Linked DNA regions of Homo sapiens. The protein of the gene in region 1 purifies or fractionates together with the protein of each later gene. This does not show direct contact. Each region holds a gene or a part of one and is shown in the gene's direction. Other genes may lie near its edges. The genes, in order: TAS2R7, CCNYL1, ATP2B4 and INTS12.

What was found.
Region 2: the proteins of TAS2R7 (region 1) and CCNYL1 purify together in Homo sapiens (affinity purification with mass spectrometry; 3 studies listed by BioGRID and IntAct, with this or other methods). This does not show direct contact.
Region 3: the proteins of TAS2R7 (region 1) and ATP2B4 purify together in Homo sapiens (affinity purification with mass spectrometry; 3 studies listed by BioGRID and IntAct, with this or other methods). This does not show direct contact.
Region 4: the proteins of TAS2R7 (region 1) and INTS12 purify together in Homo sapiens (affinity purification with mass spectrometry; 3 studies listed by BioGRID and IntAct, with this or other methods). This does not show direct contact.

What each region holds. Positions count from the first base shown.
Region 1 is NC_000012.12:10,800,725-10,807,697, reverse strand, and holds TAS2R7 (taste receptor type 2 member 7), read left to right. Parts: upstream 1-5,070; 5' UTR 5,071-5,127; coding exon 5,128-6,084; 3' UTR 6,085-6,166; downstream 6,167-6,973. Other genes in the region: TAS2R8 (taste receptor type 2 member 8), read left to right, coding at 718-1,647.
Region 2 is NC_000002.12:207,735,470-207,743,299, forward strand, and holds part of CCNYL1 (cyclin-Y-like protein 1), read left to right. Parts: intron 1-1,941; coding exon 1,942-1,977; intron 1,978-5,185; coding exon 5,186-5,237; intron 5,238-6,753; coding exon 6,754-6,873; intron 6,874-7,830. UniProt on the Homo sapiens protein: Key regulator of Wnt signaling implicated in various biological processes including male fertility, embryonic neurogenesis and cortex development. Activates the cyclin-dependent kinase CDK16, and promotes sperm maturation.
Region 3 is NC_000001.11:203,720,377-203,728,206, forward strand, and holds part of ATP2B4 (plasma membrane calcium-transporting ATPase 4), read left to right. Parts: intron 1-172; coding exon 173-364; intron 365-820; coding exon 821-1,034; intron 1,035-2,101; coding exon 2,102-2,313; intron 2,314-3,504; coding exon 3,505-3,612; intron 3,613-7,018; coding exon 7,019-7,195; intron 7,196-7,830. UniProt on the Homo sapiens protein: Calcium/calmodulin-regulated and magnesium-dependent enzyme that catalyzes the hydrolysis of ATP coupled with the transport of calcium out of the cell. By regulating sperm cell calcium homeostasis, may play a role in sperm motility.
Region 4 is NC_000004.12:105,698,283-105,706,112, reverse strand, and holds part of INTS12 (integrator complex subunit 12), read left to right. Parts: intron 1-138; exon of another isoform or gene 139-234; intron 235-722; exon of another isoform or gene 723-799; intron 800-2,303; 5' UTR 2,304-2,465; intron 2,466-3,089; exon of another isoform or gene 3,090-3,227; intron 3,228-5,841; exon of another isoform or gene 5,842-6,098; 5' UTR 6,099-6,107; coding exon 6,108-6,263; intron 6,264-7,830. UniProt on the Homo sapiens protein: Component of the integrator complex, a multiprotein complex that terminates RNA polymerase II (Pol II) transcription in the promoter-proximal region of genes.

The sequences.
Region 1 (6,973 bases):
TGGCATATTTCACTTCTGAGGAACAATTGAAAAGAAAGCAAATTCTTAGTAAATATTATCATGTGCCTGCCTAAAAAAAAGTCATTTCTAATTAGATTTGTATTATATCCTTCCCTAATTAGCCGTTTAAATGAAGACAAGAATTATTATCCTCTGACTAAATGTTAAATATCTACAATCTAATTGTACTAATTACTTCCAAAGTGAAAATTTCTTTGCATCTGGGAGAACTGATTTGTGGCTTATTTATAACTTACATGATGAAAATGAAGTTTTATTTACACAGTTGGGTTTTTATTAAACATTTATCTCTTTTTTTATGACTCCCTATTCAAAACTCAATTTGAAGATCCAAATATAGAGCTACAGCAAGAAGCCTGTTGCAAATTCATGATATAAAATCTCTTTGAATTTGCATGGGAGCAATTTCAGCCAAACATTTCAGGTATCACTCACTAAAGGATAATAATTATAATTTTTCCAGGCTATAAATAACTAGTCAAGCTGCTCATTAGTTGGTTTCATCTTCAGGAGTGTAGAGACAATCCTATTTCAGAGGAGAGCTGAACACTTCCGGAAGAATAACAACGTCGAAATAACAGCAGATGAAAACATTATTGCATGATTCGAAGAATTGATCTATCATGCTTTAACAGGTCACCTGTAAATTAGCTCATCTACAGTGATATTTGAAATCAGATTGTTCTCTCTACAAACATGTTCAGTCCTGCAGATAACATCTTTATAATCCTAATAACTGGAGAATTCATACTAGGAATATTGGGGAATGGATACATTGCACTAGTCAACTGGATTGACTGGATTAAGAAGAAAAAGATTTCCACAGTTGACTACATCCTTACCAATTTAGTTATCGCCAGAATTTGTTTGATCAGTGTAATGGTTGTAAATGGCATTGTAATAGTACTGAACCCAGATGTTTATACAAAAAATAAACAACAGATAGTCATTTTTACCTTCTGGACATTTGCCAACTACTTAAATATGTGGATTACCACCTGCCTTAATGTCTTCTATTTTCTGAAGATAGCCAGTTCCTCTCATCCACTTTTTCTCTGGCTGAAGTGGAAAATTGATATGGTGGTGCACTGGATCCTGCTGGGATGCTTTGCCATTTCCTTGTTGGTCAGCCTTATAGCAGCAATAGTACTGAGTTGTGATTATAGGTTTCATGCAATTGCCAAACATAAAAGAAACATTACTGAAATGTTCCATGTGAGTAAAATACCATACTTTGAACCCTTGACTCTCTTTAACCTGTTTGCAATTGTCCCATTTATTGTGTCACTGATATCATTTTTCCTTTTAGTAAGATCTTTATGGAGACATACCAAGCAAATAAAACTCTATGCTACCGGCAGTAGAGACCCCAGCACAGAAGTTCATGTGAGAGCCATTAAAACTATGACTTCATTTATCTTCTTTTTTTTCCTATACTATATTTCTTCTATTTTGATGACCTTTAGCTATCTTATGACAAAATACAAGTTAGCTGTGGAGTTTGGAGAGATTGCAGCAATTCTCTACCCCTTGGGTCACTCACTTATTTTAATTGTTTTAAATAATAAACTGAGGCAGACATTTGTCAGAATGCTGACATGTAGAAAAATTGCCTGCATGATATGAAATCTTAGCTGTATAAATGGAATTTAAAACCAAATCTTCTCTAACAAAAAATATAGTTTTCTTAATAGTCTATTCTCATTTTTCCCCAGTTATCTCATTTATTTTGGATGCATATCTTTAAATATTATTAGGACCTAGTAGCAAACTACTGAATACATCTTTTCTATCCCTTTACAACTCAGAAATGCTCATCTTTACACTCCCTTTCCTCGAAGAATTTCAGAGCTCATGCTTCTCTTCTTGTCTCCTCAACGCAAGTGTTAGGCCTGTATTGCCTAGTTAAAGTCTTTTTAGATTTTACTTTGGCTCATGGTAAAGTGGACCTGAGCTACAGTAACTGGTTTCTCATTTTTCTTTGTCATACATTTTTATTGCCGCTCCTTAATTGTGCTCCTTTCATGGCTCTGCTGAGTCACCCCCATTTGGCTTATTGATTAGGAACTCAGATGTTCTCTGGTCTGTCTTTGGTTTTCCCGAATGATGATTTCCATGGTCTCCTAGGTAATATTTTCTGGTTGACCTTATTCTGATGATTTCTATTGATTTTCCTTGGAATTAAATTTCCTCTCAAACAACTTGCTTTTCATGCAGCACCTAGGTGGGAATCGAACCCATTCAAGTGCCACCCACCAAGGGGTGTTCCTAAGCCCTCTTCACAATCTGGATAAAAGAATGGGGATAACAAATATTAGTCAGACTGCTCAATCAGGTTCTTTTCTCTAACCAGACCCTGCAAAGGTTTTCACTCAGGACTTAACAAAAGAAATAAATTGGGAAGAAAATAGCGTATACCATGGAATAAGCACATACTGTCCCTGGAAGAAGAAACGAATGTTTACAAAAAATACAGATAAATTTTTATTAAAAAAAAAAGGAAAATAAGTCACTAAAATTTTTAATTTTTCTGTGAACATGAAATCCATCCTCACTATAATATTATTGAAACGTTTGGTCTGGCATATCTCAGGTTGTGTATGTACTAATATGGCTGTACATTATTGCTTTTACTCCCATTACTTTCTGTTTAATTCTGATGTATTTCAATCTACTAATTTCCTTTTATTATAACTAAAATACTAATTACCGGAAAATTATCAGTTGTTTGTCTTATTATTATGTAAAACTCACTCTGTAAAGTACTAATATTTATAGCCCCAAGTATATAAATTTTATGAACTATATTTCTAATATGCTAGCTGTATATGTTACTCTTTGTTTTACAAGACACAAGAATTCATGTTCTCTTGATGAAATATATTAATGTATTCTACAAAATACAGGTAGATTTTATACTAGGATGAACTTTATATTTTTCCTAAGGTTTAAGTGAAATAAACGTTTTATTGAATTAGTACTTTTGGGAAGGTTTTACCCCATTAGGGTTAAGTTTTTTTCTTCCATATTTTGTTTCCTGCCTCTCTAATGTTTCAAGCATCTCTAGTGACCACAGTGACTGGGGTTCAAAGTAGTAAGCTTTTGACAAAATGCTCTCTCATAGAACTTTTTTTTTAACTATATATTCACATAACTTCACGCTATACAACATTGGTATTCATAAAATCTACATTTATTTCCAAAACTAAACAAAAACAAGTCTAAAAATTATTTGAGAAAATACATCATCATAGTTCCCATGAGCACTTCATTTACCAGGATAAACTGTAGGGTAAAAATGATGAGTCTAGGCCAGGCACAGTGGCTCACACCTGTAATCCCAGAACTTTGGGAGGCCAAGGCACACGGATCGCCTGAGGTCGGGAGTTCAAGACCAGCCTGACCAACATGGAGAAACCCGGAATCTACTAAAAATACAAAATTAGCCAGGCATGGTTGCACCTGCCTGTAATCCCAGCTACTTGGCAGGCTCAGGCAGGAGAATCACTTGAACCTGGGAGATGGAGGTTGCGGTGAGCCAAAATAGCACTCCAGCCTGAGCAACAAGAACGAAATTCCATCTCAAAAAAAAAACAAAAGAAATGATAAGTCTAGGTCAGGGATCATATCCAAGATCGTCCTATCATAGGTGATGTTCCAGTTGCCTGTGAACATGGCTACATAATCATACAGATTGTCCAAAAGTTAAGGCTACATCTCCGGAATGATGGTTTGTCCTTTAAGGAAGGATAAGAGAAGACATGCATTCCCAGGAAGGTGTGAATACCCAAGAACTATTCTATGGAACCCCATGTAGTAAAGCGCTTCTCAGTAACTCTAAATTAGAGAAGCTATTTCAAACTAAAAATTCATCTCTAGAGATGTGGAAAGTTTAATCTTCAGTCTCCTGCTAGAAGGGTTGAGGATCTAGATACTCATGCAATTTGTATGGAGGACAGTGGAGAGAATGAAATACAGAATTTTACTATCTCCTCTCTCATGCATACAACTACCCTTGAGAACATTTTTTAAATTTTTGAAATCTTTATGAAAGTATAATTGGTATAAAAAGAACCGCATATATTTAATGTATAAAATTTCAAACACCCATGATATCTTCACCACAAACAAGGTAATGGACATATCTAATACCTCTCAAAGTTTCCTTGAGAACATTTTAAGTGAAAATGAAAAATTTAAGGTAATCAATAGTCTTTTTTTATTACAGGTCCTCTACCTTATTATATATAACATTGCTAAATAACCATTAAAAGTCATTTAGTCAGTAAGACAATGTGTTGTATTAAGAGACACTATGCCATGTAATTGTTCATCTGAACAGCCAAAATAATGACCTAAAGTTTCTTTGGAATCAAATAACCTACATTTAGTGTTAACTTTTTAAAGTTCCTGAAAATATATAACTCTCACTATGGAACCAAACTTTGGATTCTTTACTAATTATCAATATTAACATTCAGCAAAATAAAAATTCTTCAAGAACTTTCCAATTTTACCAGTTTTATACTTGCTACCAAATTCTTGATGTTCAGGTTGCCAGAATGGAACACTCAATCTAATTTGAACTTCAGTACTTCCTGAAAGCACTGATCTTAAGTAATCAGGGACATACACTAAAAAATTATTGATTTTTTTACCTGTAATTCAAGTTTAACTGAGTGTCCTGAATTTTTAGTCGCTAAATCTAGCAACCCTATTGAGGTTACTAGCATACATCACAAATTAATGAATCCAAAATGCGTACACCTTAGCCTCAGAAAGACAATGCAGGACCATGAAAGGGAATTGGCCCAATTTGCATCTTAGTAAACAGTAGCTCAGCCTAAATTAACCGTATGTGGAAAATTACAACCTGCTGAGTAGGTAAATGGGCATACAGTGGCCAGGCCAAGGATCGCCAAACACATTGTTTGTCAAGACTAATTAGGATTTAATGAAGATAGCTCCAGTCTTCATTTATCATTCCAGTCTCCATCACAAAACAGACTACAACAAAGAGGTAAAGAAAACTACATCAAAATCTAAGAAGCAGGTGTGGATGTCAAACTCCATCAGGTCAACTAGAAACTAATTGCATATTTAAACATGGCAGATAAAGTGCAGACTACTTTATTGTTCTTAGCAGTTGGAGAGTTTTCAGTGGGGATCTTAGGGAATGCATTCATTGGATTGGTAAACTGCATGGACTGGGTCAAGAAGAGGAAAATTGCCTCCATTGATTTAATCCTCACAAGTCTGGCCATATCCAGAATTTGTCTATTGTGCGTAATACTATTAGATTGTTTTATATTGGTGCTATATCCAGATGTCTATGCCACTGGTAAAGAAATGAGAATCATTGACTTCTTCTGGACACTAACCAATCATTTAAGTATCTGGTTTGCAACCTGCCTCAGCATTTACTATTTCTTCAAGATAGGTAATTTCTTTCACCCACTTTTCCTCTGGATGAAGTGGAGAATTGACAGGGTGATTTCCTGGATTCTACTGGGGTGCGTGGTTCTCTCTGTGTTTATTAGCCTTCCAGCCACTGAGAATTTGAACGCTGATTTCAGGTTTTGTGTGAAGGCAAAGAGGAAAACAAACTTAACTTGGAGTTGCAGAGTAAATAAAACTCAACATGCTTCTACCAAGTTATTTCTCAACCTGGCAACGCTGCTCCCCTTTTGTGTGTGCCTAATGTCCTTTTTCCTCTTGATCCTCTCCCTGCGGAGACATATCAGGCGAATGCAGCTCAGTGCCACAGGGTGCAGAGACCCCAGCACAGAAGCCCATGTGAGAGCCCTGAAAGCTGTCATTTCCTTCCTTCTCCTCTTTATTGCCTACTATTTGTCCTTTCTCATTGCCACCTCCAGCTACTTTATGCCAGAGACGGAATTAGCTGTGATTTTTGGTGAGTCCATAGCTCTAATCTACCCCTCAAGTCATTCATTTATCCTAATACTGGGGAACAATAAATTAAGACATGCATCTCTAAAGGTGATTTGGAAAGTAATGTCTATTCTAAAAGGAAGAAAATTCCAACAACATAAACAAATCTGAAGAGAAACTATGCTTTTCTAGGACAAACAAAGATAAGATGTTTCTAAATTAACTTCAGTTCTTGCATTAATGTTTTATGTGATTAATTACTCCTAAAACTTAATTAGTGTATCTGTAATTGTAATGTAGGGAATCTTATGTACAGCTGGCTGGATCTCTTTATCTCTGTCTCTGTTTCTGACTCTGTCTGTGTATCCCTGTTTCTCTCTTCTGTAACTCTTCCTTTCTTTAGAGTTGCTGTTTTTTAAAACATGTTTCAGAGCAAATAGAAATTAATATCCTAATATCAACTATCAAGAGTAGAGGGCATTTTCATAGTTCTAAACCGTGTTTCCAGATGCAAAGTTGTGTGACTAATTCAAAACAACTGTAACAGCATCTTGCTGTTATTTGCATCTTTATGAAAAGCAACTAGTTCCTTCTCATAGTCCGCGTTAGATGGTTCCTCTTGGATCATCCAACAAAGCTCTACTTTTGGGAAAGACTCAATAAAGTGACAGTTCTTAATAAATGCTGTGGAATTCTATGAATAATCTTATAATCACAGAAAAGGTATATATTATGGCTAAATATATTGTCACAGTAAGTTCAAAGATTATTTGAGAATTGCAGATCAATGAATGAAGGACAATCTATAAGTAAAAGTGAGAAAAATTATGTAGAAAATGTCTATAAAATAAGAAGCCTAAATTGAACTATTAATTATTTATTGAAGAAAATTTCTCCACAAAAGACGTATGTCCACGGACTGCACCAGGCAATGATTATCAAGATGCTGTGACAAGACATTCAATCAAAAGCTAATACATGGTTATGCTAAAATGTCAAAACTCTCAAAGGATATATTGCCTCAATGTAGATCATCTCTACATCCCAGAGAAATATTGTT
Region 2 (7,830 bases), on another chromosome or scaffold:
AATTACACAGACAAGCACATCCCAGATGATTCTGGTCTTAACCCTAACTCAGTCATTCCCAAAATTTGCAGCACATTGGAATCATCACCAGGGGAACTTTAAAAACAACCCTCAGGCTGGGCGTGGTGACTGACACCTGTAATCCTAGCACTTTGGGAGGCCAAGGCGGGTAGATTGCCTGAGCTCAGGAGTTTGAGACCAGCCTGGGCAACACGGTGAAACCCCATTTCTAGTAAAATACAAAAAAATTAGCCAAGCGTGGTGGCGTGCACCTGTAATCCCAGCTACTTGGGAGGCTGAGACAGAATAGCTTGAATCCGGGAAGCGGAGGTTGCAGTGAGCCGAGATTGTGCCATTTTACTCCAGCCTGGGCGACAGAGCAAGACTCTGTCTCAAAAAAAAAACAAAACAAAACACACAAAAAGACAACAAAAAACACTCCTCATGCCCCAAGTCATACCCGATGCCAATTAAATCAGAATGTCTCAAGTTGGAAGTTAGGCAGTTTTTAAAGCTCCTCAGGTGATTGCAGTGTGCAGAAAGTTTGAGAACCACTGCTTAATTGAATGTAGGAGGATGAACTGCTTCTATTTGGTGGGACCTTGGGCAAGTCAGTTTTAAGCCTTGGTTCCCATATCTGTAAACTGGGTGTTGGATTAAATGTCATGTAAGGTTCCGTGGTCCTTTTCAGCATATAACTTCAAATTCTGTAATGTTAAAATCAATTTGGACATGAAAATGTTTGAAGCACTATAGAAGTATCCATCTTAGATGCTAATGTTACAGACTTTTTAAAAAAGTGCTAACATTGTATGGACTTAAAATTCAGATTTGCCTTCCCTCAATTATTTTGAGCCTCAGTTTAGAGACTGAGGGCAAATGGAAGCATATAACTTACCTAAGACAACTCCTTGTTTCCTGATACACAACATCTGTGGGTAATTTAGGAATACAGTAACATATATCTGAAAAGTCGTGTCTGTTCACTAATATTTTACTTAAACCAATGTGGAAATACTTGCCATTAATATTACACTTTGTAGTTTTATGCTGCATTGTTAGCACTGCTTATTTCAGGATAGCTACACCTATCATTGGTTTTGTGTGCACTTATTTACTAATAAATTTTCTACTAATGATGCAAAATTGATCATAAATGATTTTATTTGGTATAAAACACTTTTATTTACTTTAAGGGGAAATAATGAAAGATGGGTGGGTAGGTGATAGTTAATTAAATCAACTGAAATGCAGAGCCTAACAGCTTAAAAAGCAAAAAATAAAAATAACCAAAAAACCAAATAGTTTAAATTTAAGCATGTATACAAATAGGTAGAACTTGTATAAAATGAAAGGTTCTATGGGCAGAAGAGCAAATGGGGATATATGTAATTATTTATATATTATAATAGTCCACAGAAACATGTATTTTAACAGCATATTACTGGGTTTTTTTTTTTTTTTGAGACGGAGTCTCGCTCTGTCGCCCAGGCTGGAGTGCAGTGGCACGATCTCGGCTCACTGCAAGCTCTGCCTCCCGGGTTCACGCCATTCTCTTGCCTCAGCCTCCTGAGTAGCTGGGAATACAGGCGCCTGCTACCACGCCCGGCTAATTTTTTGTATTTTTAGTAGAGACGGGGTTTCACCGTGTTAGCCAGGATGGTCTCGATCTCCTGACCTCGTGATCCACCTGCCTCGGCCTCCCAAAGTGCTGGGATTACAGGCGTGAGCCACTGCGCCCGGCCTTACTTAGCATTTTGGTTCGTGTATTTTTGCTGAAAGGAACTAAAACAAGGGGAAAGTACCCATATGGTACTGTTCTGAACTAGAGGATTTCAGGGCCGCTAGGAGGGTTCCTCCCTTCCCTCATTTAAAAAATGTCTTCAGGCCTAACAAATGTTTAAATCAGTTGTTAAAAATAATTTTTTTTTCCCTTCACAGTGTGACCTTAGCAATATATTACCACATAAAGAACAGGTGAGCTCCTTTAAAACCTGTCTTGTTATTCCAGCTAATTACTTTGCATGATATCAAGTTCAGTATTAGGTCATAACTATAGACATCATAAGCTATAGATTGCTATTACAGTATTGAACTGAATCATTTGTGGTTTTTCTGGTCCCCAAGATGGTTTCAATTATTAAATTACTGAGGATCCCAAAGAGTATTTGTTTATGTTGGTTATATTGATATTTATTGCATTAGAAATTGAAGTTGAGAATTTAAAAAAAAAAACCCTATATTTAGTTTCAGTTTCTCAACGTTGGCACTGTTGATATTTTGAGCTACATAAGTCTTTGTTGTGGGGACTGTCCTGTGTATTGTAGGATATTTAACAGCTGTCCCAGGTTGTGACAACAAAAATATAACCCCTGACTGAGAATCATATTGTTAACATAAATAATATTTTTTCATGAAAAATAACTCTCTTCTACAACAACGAAGTTGAGTAAAATGTGTCATGTATTTATATATATACAACTCTCTAGTGTCCAGCTTAACAGAAAACAGCTGGATTCTCATCTCTGTCTTTGCAATTAGTTTTTTTTTTTAATTTCAACTTTTATTTTAGATACAGTGAGTACATGTGTAGGTGTATTACGTGGCTAATAGTGCACCCTGGTAGTGAGCTGTAATTTGTTTTGAAGAAGTGATAAGAAGATGACCTAGCCTCACGCAAATATATAGTTGGTAAAAGGTATATTTTTAAAGCTTTCAGATGGTTGTGGGTATTCTTTATTTTTTAGTTTATTTTTATTTGGTTTTTTTTGAGACGGAGTCTTGTCTGTTGCCCAGGCTGGAGTGCAGTGGCACGATCTCGGCTCACTGCAACCTCCACTTCCCAAGTTCAAGCGATTCTCCTGCCTCGGGCTCCCGAGTAGGTGGGGTTACAGGCGCATGCCACCACGCCTGGCTAATTTTTGTATTTTTAGTAGAGATGGAGTTTTGCCATGTTGACCAGGCTGGTCTTGAACTCCCGACCTCAGGTGATCCACCCGCCTCAGCCTCCCAAAGTGCTGGGATTACAGGCATGAGCCACCATACCCGGCCAGTATTCTTTAATACTACCCAACACTCCACAAGTGCTAGTTTCTTAAAATGGTTACAGTGGAATTTTGTGTTATCAATGAATTTTTTATTAGTACTCACCCATCTGTCTTGTACAATATATGTATCATTTCCCCTTACTTGGTTTTCTAATATTATGCATTGGTTATATGGAAAATATTGGTTCACATCTCTTCTTTCTTTTTTTTTTCTTTTTTTTGAGACAGAGTCTCATTCCATCACCCAGGCTGGAGTGCAGTGGTGCAGTCTCAGCTCACTGCAACCTCCGCCTCCCGGGTTCAAGCGATTCTCCTGTCTCAACCTCCCAAGTAGCTGAGATTACAAATACATACCACCATACCAGCTAATTTTTTGTATTTTTAGTAGAGACAGTGTTTCACCATGTTGCCCAGGCTGGTCTTGAATTCCTGAGCTCAAGCAATCCGCACACCTCAGCCTCCCAAAGTGCTAGGATTACAGGCGTGAGCCACCATACCCAGCCTGGTTCACATTTCTTGACAGTGGCAAAGCTCACTTTTGTTAGTATCACCACCAATTGTATTAAAAAATCTTTAAGTATTGAGAAGCTGTTAAACTCACATAATAAGGTACAAGTTTCTCCAAATCCTGATTTTTAGTTTGAAAGCTTGAATTTTATCATTGCAACAAATAGTGTTATTTTCTTGAAGTGACAGGCTTCATTTTTTTAAAACTTTTTATTTATTTATCTTTTGAGACTGAGTCTCACTCTGTTGCCCAGGCTGGAGGGCACTGGTGCCATCTTCGCTCACTGTAACCTCTGCCTTCCGGGTTCAAGTGATTCTCCTGCCTCAGCCTCCTGAGTAGCCGGGACTGCGGGCGCCTGTCACCATGCCTGGCTAATTTTTGTATTAGTAGAGATGGGGTTTCACCCTGTTGGCCAGGCTGGTCTCGAACTCCTGACCTCAAGTGATCCACCCGCCTCAGCCTCCCAAGGTGCTGGGATTATAGGCATGAGCCACCACACCTGGCCACTTCTTTCATTTTTGAGAATGACATTTGTACTTTCAAGTAAAAATGATATTCTGTGAAAAAAAAATGGCTTGTTTAGCTCACAATTAAATCACAAGTGCTTTTCCTTAACACAACTCTACCTCGGTATGCAGAATTACTTTATGTGAACTTTCTGCTTACTCCAGAATAGTGAAAAGAAAGGTCAAGATTTAATAATACCATTAATTTTTACTGCTTCAGCAAGGATATTCATGAGTGAAGCAGGTGTTTTTCTTAAACTGCAAGAGGCAGTAAAGAGTAGCATAACTTCTAGTATAATTTGGTAGCACTGCCTTGATTCATGCTGAGAAGCCAGCAGTTTGCCCACTTTTGCTGTTATACACTCATTACAAATGTCATACAGTCAAAAAGCAAGCAATACCTTAGTATTCTTTTTTTTTAAATTATTTTTATTTCTAAATTTTCAATCAGCTTTCTCAGGTTGAATAAGTATTCTTAAAAGAACAGTTTTGACCTCAAGGACCTCTTGGAAAAGGATCTAGAGGGTCTCCAGAAGTCCACAGACCACACTTGGAGAACCACTGGTTTTATTAAATGAGCACAATGTATTAGTTTTATAAACTTGTAAAGATTATCAAAGCCTTGTCTCTTTTAAAATAAAAAGACAATAAGGTTTTTAACTCATCAAACTACTTAAACAAATACATGTCAAGAATGTAATACGGAGAACTAGAAAGGAAAAGCCTGGGAAATCTGAATTTCATTCACAGTCATTAAAGTTCTAAAGAGTTTATTGCCCACCACTACTGCTGTGTAAAACGTTCTTGAGTTCCAATGAGGGGTTAGAAGAGTGAAAATATACTTTATTACCATTGCCTGTTAGGGAGGGCCAATACTTAAAGGCAATTCTGAATCGTCATTGTAGAAAAGACCTCACAGTACAGAACCTCATATGCTGAGTAAAAAGAGGTCAGGAAATCCTCTGAAGGCTGGCATCCCGGAGAAGAATTTGTACAACTCTTTGCTTTGGTGAAGCAAACACCAAAGCAAACAGGAGGCATCTCCCGCCACCCCCAGCAGACATTTTACTCAGATATTAACAATTCCTGAATTAACTTCTTCAATGCATATTCTTATTTTATAGAGATGCAAATAGATCCCTGGATATTTTTGATGAGAGATCACATCCACTTACAGTAAGTGTCACTTTTTTTGAGGTAGTATTTTTCTCTCATAGAGTTGTGTTTATTTCATGCTGATATTTATAAATAGTCCTAACAAATATACATGATCTCTATGAAGATAATTAGAAAACAATTTAAATTTAAATCAATTAAAATGGTGTAAACATTTAAAAATTCACTTCCTCAGGTATATGATAGCCGCTCGTGGCTAATGACTATTGTCTTGGACAGTGAAGCCTTTGAGCCTTATGGTTACAGGAAACTAAAGATATTTTTTCAGGCCGGGCACGGTGGCTCATGCCTGTAATCTCAGCACTTTGGGAGGCCGAGGCAGGCGGATCACGAGGTCAGGAGATCAAGACCATCCTGGCTAACACAGTGAAACCCCGTCTCTACTAAAAATACAAAAAATTAGCCGGGCACGGTGGCAGGCGCCTGTAGTCCCAGCTACTTGGGAGGCTGAGGCAGGAGAATGGCGTGAACGTGGAAGGCGGAGCTTGCAGTGAGCCAAGATCGCTCCACTGCACTCCAGCCTGGGCGACAGTGAGACTCCATCTCAAAAAAAAAAAATTTTTCAAAGTGTATTTAAGAGAATCCTAACATATGATTAGTAAGACTTTCGAGCCTACAAGTAGTTTACATTTTGATAGAATTCTGTGGATAGAAAGTGGAAAGGAACATAAAAATTTTCTGAGTTGTGCCTGTATTTTTCCTTAATGATAAATGGTGATGAGTATTGAATCACTATGATATTTTAAGATCCAATTGTTTATATTTTAAAAACTAAAAGTCATGTCACTCAACCAGAATTATTTTAAGGGGTACATGGGCTCAAACGTCAACACTGCTGGTCTTAGGAGTACTTAGGCCAGCTGGGCATGGTGGCTCACCCCTGTAATCCCAGCTCTTTGGGAGGCCGAGGTGGGCAGATCATGAGGTCAGGAGTTTGAGACCAGCCTGGCCAGCATGGTGAAACCCTGCCTCTGTTAAAAATACAAAAAATTAGCCGGACATGTTGGTGCACGCCTGTAATCCCAGCTACTCAGGAGGCTGAGGCAGGAGAATCACTTGAACCTGGGAGGTGGAGGTTGCAGTGAGCCGAGATTGTGCCACTGCATTCCAGCCTGGGCGACAGAGCAAGACTGGGTCTCAAAAAAAAAAAAAAAAGTACTTAGGCCGGGCGTGGTGTCTCACGCGTGTAATCCCAGCACTTTGGGAGGCCAAGGCAGGTGGATTGCCTGAGGTCAGGAGTTTGAGACCAGCCTGACCAACATGTTGAAACCCCGTCTCTACTAAAAATACAAAAACTAGCTGGGCGTGGTGGCGGGTGCCTGTAATCCTAGCTACTCAGGAGGCTGAGGCAGGAGAATCACTTAAACCCGGGGGGTAGAGGTTGCAGTGAGCCAAGATCATGCCATTGCACTCCAGCCTGGGCAGTAAGAGTGAAACTCAGTCTCAAAAAAAAAAAAAAAAAGCTTAAAATTTTTTTCTTCAGTGGATACTAACATTGCATCTTTTCTTCTTTCAGCGAGAAAAAGTTCCAGAGGAATACTTTAAGCATGATCCTGAGCACAAATTTATTTACAGATTTGTTCGTACTCTTTTTAGTGCTGCACAGCTAACAGCTGAATGTGCAATAGTAACTTTGGTAAGATATTTCTCATTTATAAAGTGTCTTTAGAAATTAGTCTTGTACACAGGGTATGGTCCTATTTTTCAAATAAAAATAGGTTCCTGAAATTATCATCAGAACTTTAAGAGAAACCTATGAAAGGAACATAAATACGTACATTCGCGTTTAATCATCATTATGGTTGAACATGTTTCCATTGCTTTTCTCATCACAGAACAGTTGCTACAAAAGGCAGCCGGGGAGATTTCTGGTTTCTCCCCCTACCCATCAATGCACATGTACACATTCAGTGTGTACACATACAAGGCATGGTGGCAGGGCTGGGGGTGATGGGGAGTGGTAACAAAACCATGTGGTTCAGAGCCAGATACTGATTCCAGTGTAGGTCTAAGCCAAGTCCCAGGCTCTATTCCCCAGGTATTTCCGATATGTGTGGTGATTGAGAACTATTGCCCTAAATTCTTTGTTCCTTGGATGATGGGTTTTAATCATCTCTGCCTACCTCTTGTGCCTGCTCGTGATGTTGCCCAGCAATGTGGTACCAGCAATACTTGGACAAAGGCTTTGCTGATTAGCTTACTAAGCTATAGCTGTGTCCTTAACTTTATGTCCTCCATACAGAATTCCTATGGTAAGATTTTATCATTGAATAATAAATCCTATTCAAGTGGTTAGGATTGTTTTACTCCTCCCCACAGCAAACCTATAGAGGAAGGTCAACTGCATGGCCTGGAGGGAAAGAATACTTAGGTCAGTACCTACTCCTTTAGCATCCAATTGGAATTTAGGAGAGAAGGCTTCTGTGCACTTGAATAGAAGCCCCTCAGTGGGTACTGGATCAGACTTAGGCCTTTTCATGGAGCTGTAAGCCATTTGGAACACTTAGCACATACTGTAGAGAAGCAGGAGTGGTGCTTCCAGATGTAGAGAGACAGGTGATACAGGAGAGGAAGCTGTACAGGAAGAGGGGAG
Region 3 (7,830 bases), on another chromosome or scaffold:
CCGCAGCCCTCCTTTCTCTAGAGTGACAGTGACACATTTGCTCTTTGTTTTCTTTTGTGTGACTAGTGTGCCCTGTAGTATTTACACTGACTTCGGAAGCTTCCTGGAGGTCAGGAAATGGAGCCTGGGCTTTATCCACTCCCTCACTGTTTTCCCTCCCATCTTACCTCAGGGCATCGCAGGCACAGATGTAGCAAAGGAGGCTTCAGACATCATCCTAACAGATGACAACTTCACCAGCATTGTGAAGGCAGTGATGTGGGGACGAAATGTCTATGACAGCATCTCCAAGTTCCTGCAGTTCCAGCTCACTGTCAATGTGGTGGCCGTGATTGTAGCCTTCACTGGAGCCTGTATCACTCAGGTGAAGGGGGTGTGGGTGGGCTGAGACGGGAGGGATGAGTCAGGGGCTAAGGAACATGGAGTGAAGACTACGGTGTGTTTACTGAAGAGTAAAGACAGCGTTTCCCCATGACATTGGGACAGGAGTTAGCTCTTCTAAGTCTGCTGTCTTCATCTGCTTATGTAGATGGTAACTTACAGGCCTTAGCTTAGCACTTATGTGTCAGCCACTGTAATAAGCATTTATATGCACTATCTGTATTCTTCAAAAATGACCTTGTGAAGTAGGTATTATTATCCCCATTTTATGGGTGAGGAACTTGAGGCTCAAGGAAGTTAAGTAGCTTTCTCACAGTCACTCAGCTAGGAAGTGGCCAGATTCCAAGTCTAGGTGGGTCGTGGGAGCTGGGCCATCGACAGGGCAAAGGTGGGCTGGTTTCAGAGAAAAGCTAAAAGGACTGGTTCTTCTCCCCGCCAGGATTCCCCATTGAAAGCTGTGCAGATGTTGTGGGTTAATCTGATCATGGACACTTTTGCTTCATTGGCCCTGGCCACAGAGCCCCCTACGGAATCTCTGTTGAAGCGGCGCCCCTATGGCCGAAATAAGCCTCTGATCTCACGCACTATGATGAAGAACATCTTGGGCCATGCATTCTATCAGCTCATTGTCATCTTTATCCTTGTCTTTGCGGGTGAGCCACTTTGGGGGTGGGTAGCAGCTGGGGTCCTGGTTGGAGGTGGGGGCAGAGAAAGAAGGTAGCGTGAGAGCAAGTGCACAGGTCAGGAATAAGCGCAGCTTCACCTCCCAGTGCTTGCTGTGCTCCCGCTACACGGTGCATTATGCTACTATATGTACTCATACAGTACTCTTGAGTACAGTGTGTACTGTGTGTACTCAAGAATTTCACAAGGGAGGCTTTATTATTTCTTTCTTTCTTTTTTTTTTTTTTTTTTTCTTTTTGGAGACAGAGTCTCGCTCTGTCACCCAGGCTGGAGTGCAGTGGCGCTAACTCGGGTCACTGCAACGTCTGCCTCCCAGGTTCAAGTGATTTTCCTGCGTCAGCCTCCCAAATAGCTGGGATTACAGGCATGCGCCACCACACCCGGCTACTTTTTGTATTTTTAGTAGAGATGGGGTTTCATCATGTTGGCCAGGCTGGGCTCGATCTCCTGACCTTGTGATCTGCCCACCTCAGCCCCCCAGAGTGCTGGGATTACAGGCATGAGCCACCACGCCTGGCTTATTTCTTTTTTTACAGATTCAAAAAATTAACCTCAGGTCCCATAATGAGTACATAGTTGCAGTAAAATTCAAACCTATGATTGCCTGACTCCAGCGCACATAGTCTTACTACCATGCTGCACTACATGAGAGCAAGTATCAATGCAGCAAACTGAGAGAGAAGGTAAAATAAGTCAAGACCAGAACTAACATTTAAAATGTTTAATAACTAGTACAACAAAAAATTAGCCAGGCATGGTGGTGCACGCCTGTAGTCCCAGCTATTTGGGAGGCTGAGATGGAAGGATCACTTGAGCAGGAAGGTCCAGGCTGCAGTGAGCCATGATCATGCCACTGCGCTCCAGCCTGGGTGACAGAGTGAGACCCTGTGTCAAAAAAATAAATAACTAGTGCAGCTCAGATATTGATTAATTAGAATGGACACCAGCCATAAGCAAGCAGTATATCTGTACCAACACATTCTTACTCTTAGTTCAGACCACACTTAACCTCCAGTGCTTCTCCTCTCCCCACTAGGTGAGAAATTCTTTGATATTGATAGTGGGAGGAAGGCACCTCTACATTCACCACCCAGCCAGCACTATACCATTGTTTTTAACACCTTCGTGCTGATGCAGCTCTTCAATGAAATCAACTCCCGAAAGATCCATGGAGAGAAGAACGTCTTTTCAGGCATCTACCGCAACATTATCTTCTGCTCTGTAGTCTTGGGCACATTCATCTGCCAGGTGAGATTCTATCTGCAGTTGGGGCAGGAGATCTGGAATGATAAAGGGCAGAAGCTGGGAGCCAGGGTTCCCTACATACCTAGGAAAAGGAATGAAGGAATTACGGGGACTGGAGCTGTAAGTTGAACACTTTGGGATTCCCAATCTGCTTTCTTTTGCATATTGCTCTAGAATTGGAGCCCATTGTGTCAAGAGCTCCAGTGCAGGGCAGCATGTTGACTGGAAATAAAATAATACTTCTAAAATCCTTTCATGATCTTTCTAAATACACAGAAATTTCACAGAATGACCAAAAGAAGTATTCTCTTCTAGTCCCTTTCTATGGCTCCTGTCAGCCTATATGAAATGTGCATGCACATCTAGTATAGACTCTCCCTGTCCCTGCCCTTTGTTCTGAAGGGCTTATGATAAAAAGTGTTGTGCAACTCAAAGAAAGAGAAGTAATGGGATTTGTACATGTATATTACATAGTCAGCCCAGCTTGGACTCCTCCAATATGAGACTATGAGCTGATCATGTCCCATCCCTCAGCAGGGCACCTCCCTTTATTTGTCCCCATCCTCAATTCCTTTTTTTTTTTTTTTTTAATTTTAAAAATACAGATGGGGTCTCACTCTGTTGCTCAGGCTGGTCTCAAACTCCTGGCCTCAAGCAATCCTCCCGCCTCCCAAAGTGTTATTACGCCTGCCATTTTTTCTTTTTGTTTTTTTTTTTTTCGTTTGAGACAGATATCTCTCTCTCTCTCTCTCTCTCTCTCTCTCTCTCTCTCTCCCTCTGCCTCTCTCTCTCTCTCTCTTTTCCCCCCTCCCCCAGGGGGAGTGCAGCCTCAGTCTCCCAGGTTCAGGCAATCCTCCCACCTCATCCTCAGTTCCTAACTCCATCACTGTACCTTCTCCTTGTCACTAACTGGCTTTAGTCACAAGAAGCCACCAGCTCCCCTAACTCCTCCAGATTGTCTGTTAATCATAGTCACAGTAACTATGTCTGTCTCCCCATCAGAGTGCTCTTAAAGGCTGTTTTTGTCTGTCTCCCCTTTGAGATTTCTTCTTTTCCCTTCCCCTGCAAGCAAATCGGGACTTGTACCCAAGGATCCTGAGGAGTGGGATGATGTGGCTTTGGGGGCCTTGGCTGGAGGGCCAGCTGCCTGTTAGTCATTTCCTTGATGGTGGGCTGCCCCTTTCTCTGTTCTAGATTTTCATCGTGGAATTTGGGGGTAAACCCTTCAGTTGTACAAGCCTCAGCCTGTCTCAGTGGCTGTGGTGTCTCTTCATTGGGATTGGAGAACTTCTGTGGGGCCAGGTGAGTACCGGCACACCCTCCTGGTGCATTCTCACAGCCTGCAGAACTCCCCTCCTCTACATGAGATGGAACAAGCAACGGTGGAGACCCCCCAGCTCCTCATCTTCATCTTCTCCTCTTCCCTCCCCACCCCCACTCAAGTTTTCAAGTTCTTGCCATCTCATAGGATCTCAAGGTGGAATGATCACTTCAGAGGTTTCAGAATTCTTCTCTAACTAAGCCTGGAGGTAGAAAAATCCCTTAGCTTGGCTGGGCGCAGTGGCTCACACCTGTAATCCCAGCACTTTGGGAGGCCGAGGCAGGCAGATCACGAGGTCAGGAAATCAAGACCGTCCTGGCTAACATGGTGAAACCCCGTCTCTACTAAAAATACAAAAAATTAGCTGGGCATGGTGGCAGGTGCCTGTAGTCCCAGCTACTCGGGAGGCTGAGGCAGGAGAATGGCGTGAACCTGGGAGGTGGAGCTTGCAGTGAGCCGAGATTGCGCCACTGCACTCCAGCCTGGGCGACAGAGCAAGACTCAGTGTCAAAAAGAAAAAAAAAAGAAAAATCCCTTAGCTTCTCTGAGACAGAAACCAAACTTTTCAATGGAATTTTGCTACAAAAAAAAAATATATAATAAGGGTCTTAGAAGTAGAAGAGTTTACAAGACACATGTCTTTATTCTCATGAGGCAGCAACCTGGCTATGGGCTGTCGAGCTGACATAATTCAGGGTTTCCAGCCTCTTCTCTTTCTTGCCATGGCTTTATCTGGGTGGAATTCTTAACTCTTACCTGAGATAAATTCAGATTTACAAGATCTCTAGAGTAGCAGTATGGCCTGTGGTTCAGAGCATGGACTCTGGGAATGACTGCCTGGGTTTGAATCCAGCTCTCTGTTTTTTTTTTTTTTTTTTTTTTTTTCTGAGACAGAGTCTTGCTCTGTCACCCAGGCTGGAGTGCAGTTGTGTGATCTCGGCTCACTGCAAACTCTGCCTCCTGGGTTCAAGCAATTTCTCCTGCCTCAGCCTCCCAAGTAGCTGGGATTACAGGCAACCACCACCGCACCTGGCTAATTTTTGTATTTTTACTAGAGACGGAGTTTCACCTTGTTGGCTAGGCTGGTCTGGAACTCCTGACCTCGTGATCTGCCTGCCTTGGCCTCCCAAAGTGCTGGGATTACAGGTGTGAGCCACCGCACCTGGCCCAGCTCTTGTTGCCCAGGCTGGAGTGCAATGGTGCAATCTTGGCTCACTGCAACCTCCACCCTCCAGGTTCAAGCAATTCTCCTGCCTCAGCCTCCCAAGTAGCTGGGATTACAGGCACCCACCACCGCGCCCAGCTAATTTTTTGTATTTTTAGTAGAGACAGGGTTTCACCATGTTGGCTAGGCTGGTCTCAAACTCCTGATCTCAGGTGATCCACCCGCCATGGCCTCCGAAAGTGCTAGGATTACAGGCCTGAGCCACCGTGCCCAGCCTCAGCTCTCCTTTTTATAAGCTGAATCATCTTGGGCAAGTTACATAACCAATCTGTGTCTCAGTGTCTTCAGCTTAGGAAAACAAGGTCATTGTTAATTAGTGAATCAGTTACTATACAGTAATGAATAATGTCTTATTCCTTATAAATAATCAAATTTTAAACTATTACGATTATAATAGTATCATTAAGTCTAATAGTTTCACTTCTTCCTTAATACCACTTTACAAACCTCCCTCATCCTCAGCTCTGGCCTGGGCTATACCTCTCTTTACAGACCCCAGGTCTCTGCAGATAATCCCTTAGTGTCCAGCCACCCAGGTAATGGACACTTTGCCCTAACTGGCCTCAAAGAGCCATTTCTGGAGCTGCAGGCCTTCTCCCCTAAACCTGCTAGTTATTTATTTCATACCTAGATGCCTCCCTGAATAATTTCTTTTTCTTTTCTTTTCTTTTCTTTTTTTTTTTTTTTTTTTTTTAAGAGATGGGGGTCTCAGGCCAGGCGCAGTGGCTCACACCTATAATCCCAACACTTTGGGAGGCTGAGTCGAGCAGATCACCTGAGGTCAGGAGTTCGAGACCAGCCTGGCCAACATGGTGAAACCCTGTCTCTACTAAAAATACAAAAAAAAAAAAAAAAAATTGGCCGGGCATGGTGACACATGCCTGTAATCCCAGCTACTTGGGAGGCTGAAGCAGAATTGCTTGAACCCGGGAGGCGGAGTGCAATGAGCTGAGATCACGGCACTGCACTCCAGCCTGGATGACAAGAGTGAGACTCTATGTCGAAAAACAAAAAATAAAGAGATTGGGGTCTCACTATGTTGCCAGGCTGATCTCAAAGTCCTGGGCTCAAGCAATCCTCCTGCCTCGGCCTCCCGAAGTGCTGGGATTACAGGCATGAACCGCTGCACCCAGCCCTCCCTAATTAATGTCTGACCCAATTCCCTCCACCCTGTTCTGTTTGGTGAAGATTTCTTTTTTTTTTTTTTTACCAATGGGTTCCTAAAGCAGTTTTATGCTTTGGTAAAGCTTGGTTGTTAAACCTGTTGTTTGAAACTCTGTTCTGGCTCTTGCCTCACATGTGGCCATGTGGCCTTGCTGCCAGACAGCAGCCTTCCTTCTGTATCACAACAGCTTTTTCCACATTCAGAGGCAGAGCTCTGGCATTCTTCCCATTTCAAAACCCTTGACTCCATATCAGATTGCCCATACAGTCCCTCTTCCCCACATGAGCCCTGGCTACTCCTTATCTTGTCCGGAAAGAACTGACTGACAGGTGCTGAGCTCACCGGGAAATTTATTTCAAATTTCAAACCCTATGTACTGCTCCTTGTCTTCTGATAATACTCATGTGACCCCTCTTCTATGGACTGTCCCATCCACTTCCTCACCTCAAGCCCAAGAAAACTTTTGGTATCCTTTCACAAGAGTTTGTAACACAGAAACTACTTTGCATGTGGCAACTAAGAAAGGGGTCATTCATTTCCAATACCCTTCTCAACCCCTTGCCTATACATAGGCAATATCACCATCTTCTCCCCAAACTCTTTTCCCCCAGGTCCTGGTCTCTGTTTCTTCCTACTGCGTACCATGCTGTATAGTTCTGTTAACCTTAAAAGACAGATTGCAAAATGGAACAGAAGAAATGAGACAGAAAGAGGAAAATGAAGTATATGACCAGGCAGATGGCTGGTCAATTACTAGAATAGAAGCTCTCTTTTGTGTGTGTCCATAAATACAGAAAACCTTCCTAAAAGCCTGACCGCTGGTGGGCACTTGGAGAATGCTTGCCTGGATGGATTGGTGCTTCTGCCCACTGCTCTTCCAGTGGGAAGGGTGGTAGGGCAAAGAGTAACCTGCCCAAGGGCCTGGCTCATGTAAGTTGACTGACAGCTCTTCTCACGCTGATTCTGACGTCTTCCTCTTCGCTGCGCTTGTTTTCAGTTCATCTCCGCAATACCTACCCGATCCCTGAAGTTCCTGAAGGAGGCTGGGCATGGCACCACCAAAGAGGAGATCACCAAGGATGCCGAGGGACTGGATGAGATTGACCATGCTGAGATGGAGCTGCGCCGAGGCCAGATCCTCTGGTTCCGGGGCCTGAACCGTATCCAGACTCAGGTACTCTGATAGTGGTCTGTCCTTCCCTTGGGAGAAGCAGCTTCCCATCTTGGAAGGTGTTGGGAGGGTAGCAGTTCTTGTCGGCCAGCATCTCTTCCCTTCCAAAGGCTCACTACTGATGGGCAGCCCTAGATCCTCAGCTTCAGGACAGACACGCAAAAGGATCTGTGTGGGGTCCTCTGAGAGGAGAGGAGTCAAATGACCTAGACCATGGGACACTATTAGCATAGTCCTTTAGCTCTGGGTTGACCCTAAAGCCCAGCCTGCCACCCTCTATCAAATGGGCAAGCTTCAGCATAAGGTCTCTTGCAAGCACTAGACCTGACCCCAGGGTGGGAAATGCTCAGTTTTTCCCTACCCTTCAGAAGGAAGGAGTTAGACAATATCAATATGCCAACATACCCAGCATTCACTTAATATAGCTTCCTCACACTGCCATTATAGGAATAGATGCTATCTGGAAGGGTCTTTGTAAAAGAAACTCACCTTGTTATATCTCCCCCATTCAAAGTGTAAGGCCATGGTGGGGAATCTGATGGTTTCATGTGTAAAAATGACAATAGTCTCTTGATGTCTGAGCATCTTTTGCAGGATTCAGACTTGCTTCCTGACAAGGAGGAAGCAATAATTTCTTC
Region 4 (7,830 bases), on another chromosome or scaffold:
GCAACAAAGAAGATAAGCCAAAGAAAGAGTAGTCAGAGATAGAAGAGGAAAAACAGAAAAGTTGAGTATAACAGAACTCAAGGGAAGAGAAAGTTTTATGAAATTGGAAGTAGATAACAAGTATTTACTTGGCCAACATTTACAGTTATTTGCTGTTTTCCAGGAACTCTGCCAGACAGGGGTTACAACAGTAGGCAAGACCAATCCACTGCCTGCCTTCATGGAACTTACATTCTAATGAGAAAGAAAGATTATTTACATAATTAACAGTGTGATTAATATTACAAATAAGTACAGAATGTTTTTGGGCTATGTAACAGTGAAACTTCTAGTTTTGTTGAGGGAATGTGCAGGAAAAACTGAAACTTGAGAGGTGACTTAAGATGGAGGTGGGGGTGGCACACTTTCTACTGAAGTGCTAAGGTAAGAAAGAGTATATTGGAGGACTTGAAATAAGTCAGATAGCTATAACAGAGAGAGTGAGAATGGCCTAAGATACTAGGTAACATTTAATGAGTGTCAACTATGTGTCAGGTACTGTTGTAACTGCTTTATATGTATTATTAATCATGTAGAGCAATGGTCCACAACCTTTTTGGCACCAGGGACCAGTTTCATTGAAGACATGGTTTCAGGATGATTCAAGTGCATTACATTTATTGTGCACTTTATTTCTCTTATTACTACATGGTAATATATAATAAAATAATTGGACAACTCACCATAATGTAGAATCAGTGGGAACCTTGAGCTTGCTTTCCTGCAGCTAGACGGTTTCATCTGGGGATGATGGGGTATACTGTGACAGATCATCAGGCATTAGATTCTCATGAGGAGCACACAACGTAGATCACACACATGCACAGTTCACATAGGATTCGCATTCCTATGAGAATCTAATTCCACCAGTGATGTGACAGGAGGCAGAGCTCAGGTAGTAATGCAAGTGATGGGAGTGGCTGTAAATACAAATGAAGCTTCCCTCGCTTGCCTACTGCTCACCTCCTGCTGCATGGCCTGAAGGTTAGGGACCCCTGATGTAGAGAATTGGAGACCTTGTTAAGAATCTTATTCTTGAACCTTTGGATTGTGAGAAGTGATAAAAGGATTTTAAGCAAGTGAGTGATATGAAAAGGTTTAAAGGGATGACAAGAGTGATTGTGGGAGACTGATTAAGCTTTTGCAGTGGGCCAGATAATAGATGATGCTAGGTTGGTCTAGGGTGGTAGTAGTAAGGATTGAAAAGGGTGGATAGATTTGAGGTATGTTTAAGAGGTTTGGTTATTGAATTGGGGGTGGGAATTAAGGAAGTGGGAAGAGTTAAAGCTGCTTCTGGGTTACTGGCTTGGGCAATAGGGTAAATATCATTTGAAAAAGGGATTACTAGAGGAAGAACTGGTTAGGAGAAAAGGGAATAGTGTATGAGTGGCTCTGTTGGAGACACGTTGCATAGGAGGCACCAATGATATATCCATGTCAAGCTGGCAGTTGGATCTTGGGAGAGACACATGGACTGCAGAGATGTATTAGTAATCACTGGCAAAAGACTATATAGATCAAATTGTCTAGGGCAATAATTCCCAAACTTTAGAGTAGATAGAATTGCCTGGAAGGCTTAACACAGATTTCTAGACCCTACTCCCAGAGTTTTTTCTTCAGTAGGCCTAGGAATGGAGACCAAGAGTTTGTATTTCTAAGTTCTGACGTGATACCTATGCTGCTGACTCAGAGAACACATTTTTGGAAGAAGATGTAGAACAAGTCAAGAAGAGACCCAGAACCTAGCACTGAGGAACTCATTTTTAATTGGATAGGAGGAACCTACAAAGATGACTGACAAAGAAGTAGGAGGGACAATCGTATGTATTAGGTTTACCTGACTGAGGCGGCGAATGACTCATGAGAGCATTTTCATGGAATAGTGGGACAAAGGCTGAATTGCAAGAATTGCTGTGTAAATAGAAGGAATGAAGAAAAAGAGTACAAAAGCATATGATTTCTGAGAACGTTTTGCTATAAAAGAGAAAAGATAGAAGATGTTTGAATATATTTAATGTCAATGAAAAGATGCCAGTAGAAAGGCTGAAAAAAAAAAAAAGAAGATATGGGAAATAATCCATAGGCCAAGGTTCAAGAGGGGACAAGAAGAGATAGGATCCAGATCCAGGTGACACTACATAGAGAGCTACCTTCTCCTTTTTTATCAGATGGGAAAGAGGAAAGGATGAGTGCAGGTAAGTTTGTAGATGTGCTGGAAGGAAGTCGACTTAATTCCTCTCTGACAGCCTCTCTTTGTGAAGTAGGTGAGGCCATCTACTGAAACACAGAAGCAATTTTAAAAGAAAATGGAGGAAGTATAACTGATCTTTGCAGAAAGTGGGGAAGTGAGTTGACCAGAGAAGGATGAGAGAATTGCCAAGTTGTACTGAACGCCAAGCTGAGAATGGTGATTCTGAAGATAGAATGTATGTATATTCCTCCCAGTTGCACTTAGAGTTTGGGTGCAGGCAGAGAGAGAATGGCTAGCAGGGTGGATGTCTATAAAGTAGGGAAACTACAGGGCTTTCGGGTGCCTAGAGTACTGAAAGAGGTATTGAAAGGGTGGACCACAGAATGTGAGCTGGATAGGAAGTAAACGGCATACTGCAATAAATCAAGGATAATAAGAGATACAGAAAAAAGATCATTGTTCAGTAATGGCGATTTTTGTGCTATATGCATTTGACACAGCTAATTCCCAGCATCACCTAAGAATTCACTCCTATCAATACTACTACTACCACTTCCCTAGGTCAGCGAAAGCTTTAAAGTGGTAAATATTAATTTTCTCACATTCTCCTTTTTGAAAGCAACATCTACTTTTTAAATGAAACCTACATTTAATATATTAAATATCTTTCATATATACATTTTTCTTTCATACACACACACAGGACTTTGTTTTCTAGAACTCTAATCCATAGTAAGAATGATATGGCTCTTTTGCAGTCTGTTTTGGCCATGGGTTTAGGAATGAATATACAGGAAAGGAATTGTATAGAAGTAACATGATTTGGTGTAACTCCAGGAAAATATTTTTGTATGTGTAGATCAACACAGTTACACCAAGTTGCTGACCTCTTTATGACTGCTGTAGAAAGTAAACTTCTTTCACTATATGGATATTTGCCGGTAAGGAAGGAAAAGTAACAGAGATTAGAGAAGGCAACAGAAAAGGGGGAGTAAAGGTAAGATAGAAAACTAAAATATAAAATATAAACCACATAACCATAAGTGTTTTATTTTAGGTTCAACTACTGTTTTCTGTTTGGTGAGGAAACAAAAGTCAGGGCAAGAGGGTGCCAATAAGGAGAAAGCAGAAGGGACAAGAAATTGGAGGCTTCTGTAACAAAGAACAAGTAGAATGGGAATAGAGAAATGAATAAATACAGAAGAAAGATTGACTTGGCACTTTGAAGAGGTCCCTGGATTAAGGCAGTGGAAGAGATAGAGTAATGGAAGATTGTAGTCAGAAAGGAGAATTGATTGTAATAAAAGAGGACAATAGTTGTGGCAAGTTTCAGATTTCACTGGCTGAAGATAAAGCTCCTTGAGGTTAAAGATCAATTATATAACACACTATTATCACTCTGTATATGAATAGATTTTTAAAAAATAAATAGAAATAGAAATAAATTGGCTGGGCGCGGTGGCTCACGCCTGTAATCCCAGCACTTTGGGAGGCCGAGGCGGGTGGATCACAAGGTCAGGAGATCGAGACCATCCTGGCTAACATGATGAAACCCCGTCTGTACTAAAAAATACAAAAAATTAGCCGGGTGTGGTGGCGGGCGCCTGTAGTCCCAGCTACTCGGGAGGCTGAGGCAGGAGAATGGCATGAACCCGTGAGGCGGAGCTTGCCATGAGCCGAGATCATGCCACTGCACTCCAGCCTGGGCGACAGAGCGAGACTCTGTCTCAAAAAAAAAAAAAAAAAAAAAAAGAAATAGAAATAAATTAAAAAGTTAATATTTTTTTCTCTGTATTCCACCATGGGGACCACTGGGTCAAAGGGCCATGTTAGTAATTTAGGGGAGGGGTACAAAGCCTGTTAAGTTTTATAATGGCAAGATTGCATAAAAAGAACTGACTCCAAGGTTCCAACTGGAATGTTGGTGTTGATGACTTCCGCAGTCTTGTAATCTAGGTGCTGACTCTTGTCACCTAATCTGTAATGTAAACCTCTTACCTGTGATTGTAGAAATACATAGCAATAAATACTTGGCTTTCATTTTTCAGCATAGAAATTTCAAGAAATGGTTTTTCTAATATATTACAAGGGTTCTTTTAGGTGTCAACCCTTTGGTCAGCACCCAATAAAATAAATTGTTTTATAACAATCTGGATAAGTAAACTGCTATTTCCTTTACCTATATGAAATAAAATCAGTAGAAAGATTAGTAAACTGTCACAGGAGTGGAATTTAAAGAAAAAAAAGAGATTAGGCTGTTACCCTTGTATATGCTGGGGGAATGGCAGGTTTACCCTTTTAATCTTGGAAATTTTATTAAGGAGCTATTTTTTCCTCAGAACGTACATGGTGACCAGCCCCATGAGTAAATTTTAAAATAATTTTTCTGTACCTATCATTATGTAGAGGTGATGTATATAATAATATAATTTTAAGAAGTGACAGAGGCTGCTTTTCAATTTTGTTAAATTCTTAGAAATACAACAGTTTGAGATAAGGTTACTTTTTCATTATAGTACTGGCCTTTGGATTCCTTTCCATGGGTGATTCAGATGATATTTTAGTACAGTACAGAATTCGACAGTAATTTTGTAGTTATCAGGTAGATAACTAATACCTTCCTGGGAACTTAAAAAAAAAAAAAAAAAAGCCTAGGGATGTGTATGTGTGTTTCTTGTCAGATGTGGAGAAGGATGAGGAGTGAAGCTGGAGGGGAGGGGACAACAAAATCCATTTTCAGATGTGCTTTCATATGCTAGGATTCAACCTACAGCAAGTTTTAATGGTGTTATAAACCCCTGAAAATGGGAGATAACTGTGGAATTGCTGACAGTTCCCTAACTATAGCAATGCAAGTGTGCTGCATTAATACAATATTAACCTCAAGGATAGAAGATTTCAAGCCATAGTATATTGATCAAAGGATTGAACACAAAGAATACATTTTTATTTTGATAATTTCTTGCCTGGAGAGGTCTTTGAAAAAGTGACAACCAGAAGCAGAACCACATGATAGCATTGGTATTAACTAAAAACAAAACTTTTTAGTATTGTGGAATTTCATAAGCCTTTGATGTATATCTTTATCCATCTTGGCTATTTTTTAAGCTCTTTAGGACACAAAGCATCATAGGCTCTGTGTGTGTGTGTGTGTGTGTGTGTGTGTGTGTGTGTGTTTTAAGTAGATATGATATTATCCCTCAGAGACCTTACTTTTAAAAATAGGTTAATGCATGAGATACCACAATCTAAATGTGATCAAATAAGGTTATCATTAATATGTTTTCTGAGACATTTAGGGTTGGGGCAGAGAACTGAAGAGGTGAGTTTAGAAAAAAAAAAAAAAAGAGTTGAGGTAAAAGTGGCAGCAGTGACCATGATAGCTAATCACTTAATATACCTTTTCACCATTGCCCTCTTACGATAGCCCTTACACACACAAACACCTGCACACTAAGTCTTCCCTTGTGTTATGGAAATAAGGTTTGAGAGAAGAAATTTTGATACAGAGTAAACTTGACGTAAACCCATCAAGTTCTATGTACTGAAACTGCGAAGTGTATCTTTTAAAACACAGTTAGGAAGGAGTTCTGTGGCAGGGAGAGGCCTACCTGGATTTAAAACGTTACCATCGATATGGATACACAGAAAACTGATACTGCTAGTTGTTTCAGGGGGAAGGAACTAGATAATGCCTGTCAGGAATAAGAAGGAAATTTACTTTTATTTGTAATAACTTTTTGGTGATTTTAAATTTTATATCATGTGTACAGTATTATCTATTACAAATTAAAAAACAGAAAAGTAAAACTTTAACATAGATAATTGTGCATTGTCTTCTAGATTACTTTCTCTTTTTTTCCTTCAGGCGTTTGCAATGGCTGCTACTGTGAACTTGGAACTTGATCCCATTTTTTTGAAAGCACTAGGTTTCTTGCATTCAAAGAGTAAAGATTCTGCTGAAAAGCTAAAAGCACTGCTTGATGAATCTTTGGCTCGGGGCATTGATTCCAGTTACCGTCCATCTCAAAAGGTACTTGAATGAATAAAAAGCTTGGAGAGAGTTTTGTAAGGCCTGTAGTACTACATTGATAACATATAGACCATCTCAAAACAATCTCTGCCGAAATAATCTTTCCTTGTAGCATGAAGAAATTATATTCTTTATTTTCTTTTTTCCCTTCAAGTTTTCAGAGAACTGTTACACCACATAGAAAAATCAGCTGGGGGTGCAGGATATTCTGTTCTACTACTTTATGTGTATATGAATTCACTTGTTTACGACTTACTTTAATTTCCGATTCTTTGTGATCAGAATTTTTTTTAAGCTGCTGAATGTAACCACAACTTACTTCTAATTATTGCCTAATATTTTAAGGATTAAAAAAAATCAAGTAAAAGGACAGATCTTTCAACAAAATAAATTGAATATGGGTAGGATAATTTAAGAGAAAAGGAGGTATGGATGAACTCTGAGAACTGTGTAGCTCCTGTCTTGATAATAACAAAGCAGCCAATGGCAGCTTTATGTGAAAAGAATATATGTTTTGATACCAAACACACCTGTTTTAAATCCCACTTAAATCTTATAATTGTGTGATGATAATAGACAACGTATCTTGATGTCCCAGGCACTTTTCTGAGTAGTTTATGTGAATAATTAATTTTAATTATGATAATGATCCTTTAAGATAGATAACTGTTTTCTTCATTTTACATAAGGAAACTGAGGTACATAGAAACTTCATTTCACTTAGTCTGTTTATTGGTAAAATGGGGATAATAAGAACTACTTTGCAGAGTTGTAAAAATTGAAGGAGATCCAGTAAATGAGTTACCTAGTGTAGTACCTGCCTGGTACATAATAGGCTGTCACTGAATGACAACTCTTATTATATTCCCTAATACCTACTAAGACATTCTATCAAATCCTTCTAAGCTCTGACCCTCAAACTCCAAATCACTCAGGTCTGTGGACTTAGATCCCAAACTGAGAAGGAGAAAATAGAACATGACTAGCTCAAGTCTAACCAGAATCTGAAGCTCAAGAGAGGATCTAGTCCCAGGCTCAGAGCCCAAGTAAACACTGGCATTTTGTCCCCAGCCTTCTTTCAATACTAGGTCTAGTACTCCGAAGCCTTTTTATTGTATTTTGAATAGCAGAACCATTGTGACTTCATTTCTTCTATCCATTCTCATTGCAGTAGGTTCAGTGAGTTCAGATCGACCAAATCAATATGGCTCTACAAAACATACTACCAAATTCATTCCACTGTGGGTGTTGGTATTGTCCAGATAGGGAAACCTATTATTACTAAAGAAAAAAAATTGTTTTAATGGGGTTCTAAAATGGAAGTTTATCTCTTAAAGAACATGAAAAATTTGTTGTGATTAAAAAGCACGCTGCCCTTAGGTTTCTAGCTAGAGTTCATTTCTCTTGATCAGTTTTCAGAAACTACTTTGTTATAGGTTTTTAAAGCCCAGGTCCATTTAATTTTAGCCTTCAGCTGAATATTTTCATCACTAGATTTGTGTAAGAAGAGTGATTTATGCCAGTGTTTCTCAAACTTTAGCATGGATAAGAATCACCTGGAGGTAAT